Linked DNA regions of Homo sapiens: region 1 is linked to region 2. Evidence: fine-mapped expression QTL. Tissue or cell type: left ventricle. Region 2 holds a variant in brackets; the other region holds the start of a gene. All regions are shown on one strand. Distances are between the middles of the regions.

Evidence for each region.
Region 1: PLA2G2A starts here. The variant in region 2 is fine-mapped to the expression of PLA2G2A in left ventricle (GTEx, PIP above 0.99).

The regions. Positions count from the first base shown.
Region 1 is chr1:19,978,150-19,980,649 of GRCh38, forward strand. It overlaps PLA2G2A (phospholipase A2 group IIA), which reads right to left and starts at 1,469. Exons shown (of 5, transcript NM_001395463.1): 1 at 1,431-1,469; 2 at 585-730; 3 at 231-375. The coding sequence starts at 624. RefSeq lists an enhancer at 113-612.
Region 2 is chr1:19,340,983-19,343,742 of GRCh38, forward strand. The region is part of intron 8 of CAPZB (capping actin protein of muscle Z-line subunit beta); the gene reads right to left. Among named protein-coding and RNA genes, the nearest start is that of SLC66A1, 30 kb to the left of the region's middle. RefSeq lists an enhancer at 1-744. The variant C/T (reference allele first, on the strand shown) is at 1,651.

The DNA.
Region 1 (2,500 bases), 640 kb after region 2:
TGTCCCACAGCTCCAGGAGGCCTGGTGCCTGTGGTCTCACCCCCTTGGACCCTGGGCAGAGACCCAGTGACTTTGCAACAGTCTAGAGCAGAAGTTCCAACATGCCGGCTGCTTTTCCAGCCAGGCCATCCTGAGACCTCTGCGCCCATCAGGAACCGGCACTGTCTTTGCAGCTCCCAGCCCTGCCTGGGCCAGAGTCTAGGAGGGTAGGGAGGGATAGGTGGCCTCACCGATCCGTTGCATCCTTGGGGGATCCTCTGCCACCCACGCCACAGTGGCAGCCGTAGAAGCCATAACTGAGTGCGGCTTCCTTTCCTGTCGTCAACTTGATCATTCTGTGGAAATTCACCAAATTCCCATGGGCCTGCAGTAGGCCTGGAAGGAAATTTGGGAGTTGTCTGGTGATGGGGCATGGGGTTCTGCGCCCTCCCTCTCTGCCCCTCTCTGCTACTCTCCTTCCTCCCAAATGGCTTCTTTTTTCCCCCTGAGAGAGGATCACTGCAATGGGAGAGAAAACTAAGGGACAAGAGTGCTTCCCTTCTGGGGCTGTCCCCCCATGCTCAGAGGTCAGGGTCAGCTCTTACCAAAGATCATGATCACTGCCAACAGTAGGAGGGTCTTCATGGTAAGAGTTCTTGGGTGACAAATGCAGATGGACTGGCCTAGCTCCTCTGCTGGGTGGTCTCAACTTCTGCCCCGGCCGTCGCTCCCCTGCTCCTCCTTGGTGGCTCTGAGACACACAGACATGCTCTCCCATCCAACCTAAGTCCAGGGTGACTTCCTCTGTCACACTCAGAGCACACAAGGAGTGCCCTCCAGCAATGCACACACACACACACACACACACACACAACCACCTCCTGACCCGTTCCCAGCTCTGCAGAATGGTTTCACACACATCAGGCCCTCAGACCTGTGGAGAACCCCATGATACACTAATGAGACCTCCCCTGTACCTCATCAGACTGAGAGTTCTTGGGAGGTTGGAACCAGGTTCCTCCCAACTACCTGGGAGGTTCCTGAGGTCAGAGGATGTGTCCCTCGCTAGACATAGCTTGCATATCCCCACACTGGATTCAAGGCTTGGAGTCTCCAAGGCACCCATGGAGGCTCGGCCTCAGTATTTTCCTCCAGAATGAAAGCATCAACCTCTCTCTTCTAGGCCTTCTAACCCCTTCCACATACACAAGTTCCCAAACACATACATGTTAACACACCTATGCCCACATACACACACTCTCGTACTTACCTGATAGTGCCAACATCCTCTCTTACACTACACTCACATACTCACTCAACACACTCATGCACACACACCCTCTCATACATATCAAATCATGCACATGCATGCACAACACAGCCACTCTCAAAGGCAGCGAATGAGCAGGAATTCTGCTCTTGACAGGACATCAGCTTCGCTGGCTCTTTACCTCTCAGAGGACTCCAGAGTTGTATCCCCAGGCCGTCTTGTTTGTTCTGCACTCCTGCTCCCCTTAAATAGCTGCTCCCTCTGGGAGGTTGGGGGTAGGTGAGGCACAAGGCTGGGGATGGGCGTGGTCAGTTGGTGGACTCAGGATTGGTCGCCCATACCCCTAGGTAATCCCTTTCCTTCCCCTCATCAGCTGGCAGGACAGAGTTGAGGATTGGGAAACCTTACGTGTCAGTAGCTGATGCCAAAACACATTTCAGGCAGTTTTGCAGTCTTTCCATGGAGTAAATTCCCATAACCAGCTCTGGGTGTGATCAACGGTCAGCCACCTCCCTGCAATCGCCTCTAAGGGGGGCAGAGACTGTCTGCTGTTGCAGGCTGTGGACTCATTTGCACACCCAAAGGGACTACCAATTGCTGAGCAAGGATTGCTCCCTTCTGCTCAATGTGGCATTTGGGAATAGAAAAGAGGGCTTTTAGTGGTACTCATTCATTCAGCCGCTCAATCATTCATTCACAGGAAGTATGTCCTGGGCCTCTACCATGTTCCAGCACCTGTGCAGGCCTCACGTGTGCACCCCACAGTCCACCAGGGAGAGAGTTTAATGGGGGTGGATTTCCCTTCCCACTAACTTGGGCCAGGGCCTCAACTTTCTCTTCTTATTCTTCTTTCTTCTTTTCCTCCACCCCTGTCTCATATGAGCTTCTAAACCTGGAAAAAGCCAGAGGCTATCCTTGAAGTTCCCACCAAAGCACTGCCTTCACTTTATTCCCCATCCTCACCTGTTTGGAGACAGGGCAGGTGAATGCTCCCTGGATCTGTTGCTCTTTTTCCTTCAGCCTTCGGGCTGACACTGACTCCAGCTTTAATTCATAAAGTAAATATCTTTTTCATTGCTCTCCAGCACATGCTAAGAATTTAGCTTCCACCGCCTTAAGTAAACACTCTGCGATACCAGTCCTAAAAAAGTCACTGTGGCAGGGGCTGTGGTGCTTGTGAACATTCCATCTGTTCCCTACACTCTAGAGCCCCTTGCAGGGATGGAGACCTAGGGCCCTGCTGCTGACTGG
Region 2 (2,760 bases):
AAAATGGGCAAATGGAAGTGAAGCAGGGCCCAGGAGAAGCAACAGCACCCAGACTGAGTTCTGGCTACCGAATCCCTACAAGTCACAGGAAGAGCCCTCAAAATACTCAGCAGGTGCCATAAGACAAGACCTGGAAGCAAGCTGCATACAACTGAAAAAACTCCCAGGAGAAACGCAGACATTTGGTTCATGCTGGGGAAATACACGTTTCTGAGTATCTTCCCAGGACTGTCCCTGGCTCTGCGGCGGCCAAAGGCATCAGCCCCCACGGCCCCCAGGCTCCAAATCTCAGCCGATTCCCCAGGGGCTTCTTGCCAAGCTCACAGCGGGAGGTCAACATGGCCAGCGGGAGATGCGGCGGGCAAAGCAGCAGCGCACAGGACCTCTAGCCTGGGTGGTCACTGGCTCTTCTGGGAAGGAAGAGCCAAGCCCGCCAGGTCTTGGCTGGATCACACGAAGGAGAAAGTTCCAGAGCTAGAATCATGTTAGACACAGGAAGTTAGAAGTGAAATGGTGGAAGGCGGAAGGAGCAGGGGGCTTATTTAAGGGACAATGCTTGGGAAGGTCACGGCCAAGCAACCTCGAATCAGCGCTTGGAGACAGTGCTCGACTCTGTGGGAGGGAGGAGTCATCTTGAGCAGACCTGGCTGCCAGGGTTTCTACGCCAGGACGCCCCCAGTGGGCGGCCAGGGAACTGCACCATCACGGTGTATCTTAAAAAGAGTTTTTTCTCAATGCCATGATGGAAATGCCTGATGGCCACACTGTGAGGCTGACCCGAGTCGTGGGCCTTAAGTTGGCACACACAGACCAGACTGGTGCACTTAAGTCCCACGGCCTCGGAAAAGCAGCTCCACCTGGTTTTCTAAGTGCCTGACCCCACCTCCACCTTGGAAAGTCTGCTGCACCCCTTCTGGGGTGGGCCTTCAGTGCGCAGCCCCTGGACCTGGGCTCTGCAGCCCCAGTTGGCAGGGTTCCAAATGCCTTCTTTTTACAAACAAGTTTCCCTCCTACTCTCCAGGGATGCTGCCTCCTTCCCTACATCTGGATCTGTCACAAGCTCAAGTCATGGTTCTTGGCCATTACCAACAAGCAAGACTATTTTCCTTTCCATTAGCGAAACCTGTTTAAAGGAACAGCTGCAGCTCGTTAGGGGCGGAAGGTTATGCTGGTTGTGGCCGAGTCGGCACTGGGCGTCCAGGCAGCTCCAGCAGAGCATCTGGGCCAGCCAGGGTGGAGTCCAGCCCTGACTCTGCCCTCCAACCCCAGAGACTCAGAGATCAGAGAGTGAGGTCACCCCTTCCAAGCCAGCTAGCCCTGGACAGGCAATGTGCCGCTGAGCAGCGGGGAGGCTTATGTGGCTTCTGGGATCCCTGCACCAGCATCAGAGGCTCCTCTGAAGCATGGGGGGGTGGACGGCAGGCAGATCCCTGCCCTGGGGACAGTCAGGCCGGTGCACACAAGTGGCTGCTGCTGGAGAGGCAGCATCCGTCCCTTGGCCTGGGCTTCTTCAGAAGCAAAAGCCAAAAAATCAGCCGTCTTCCCCACACCCAGCCTCCACCCAGAGTGGAAAGCACACACACGTGATAGGTGCCGTGTTACATGGGGCCGAGGCTACACGGGAATGTGGCTGTGCACCGACCGGGAGCA[C/T]ACGTGGGGGTTAGTGGTGGTTTAAATGGCCGCGGAGCAGCAGCCGGACCGGCAGGGTCTCGGCGGGTTGGTGAGTCCTGTTTTAGTGGGGAGGGTCTCGCGGCTCTCAGGCAGGGTACCTGGATCGGCTTAATTATCAGGCTGGATGTAGATCTGGCGCTGGGTCAGCACTTGAGAGAGCTCCCTCTGCAACTGCTTAAACTTTTGGTTGTCAGGGATAGCATCAATAGATCTACAGAGAGTGTTCAAGATGAGTGGAGTGGGAGGGAAGAGAACGACGAGAAGCCAGGAACGCAGGGGGCCACAGCTGAGGAGGAAATTCAGGGAGACCCACGAGGCGGAAGGGGGGATGCCGTGGCGGCTCTGGGGTGTGGAGTGGTATCGCCGCTGCAGAGGTCCACGCTGGCGGTGGTCGTGGTATTCAGGGGCTCGCCACCACCACCCGCAGGCTCTTCGGCTTCTCTCCCCCACTTCCCAGCCACTGCCTGGGGACTGTGCAGGTTGGCTGGGCGGGAAAGTGTGTTTGGTGTATCGGGCAGTGGCTGCCAGTGGCAGGCCTAACGCCAGGGACCACTGGGCTCTAACCCTGTCACAGGTCACGAAGACCAAGCCTCCCCCAGGTGGGCAGGGGATCAGAAGACAAGGGTCCAAAGAGGACTCCTCCTCTGTTTTAAAACTGTAAAGCAGGTGACTGAAATCTGTCGCCCACCCCAGTCCACGAGCTGGGGCAGCCCCGGGACTGCAGCCTGCCTCTCCTCTGGGCTGGGCTGTGAGAGCTACACCACGGCAGTGGGTGAGAGGGCTGGCCGCTAAAGGCATAGCACAGCCCGACTCACACGGTGCTGCTGGACTGCAGAGCGTGTTCTAGATTCATCATCTCAGCCGACCGTGCCTCCTCGACTGGACAAGGGCCTCTGCGAGGAGTGCCAGAGGCCATGCAGCTCGGGATGACAGAGCTTAGGGGAGATCCCGGCCTCCTGACTCTCCTGACTCCAAGGCCAGTGCTCCCTCCACAGCCGTTTACTGCCCCCAGCTGGGCTCTGGCCTCATGTCAGAGGCCTGCCTCCTGCTCTGTCCGCCGTGGACCTGGAGGGTCCAGAGAGCGCCCGG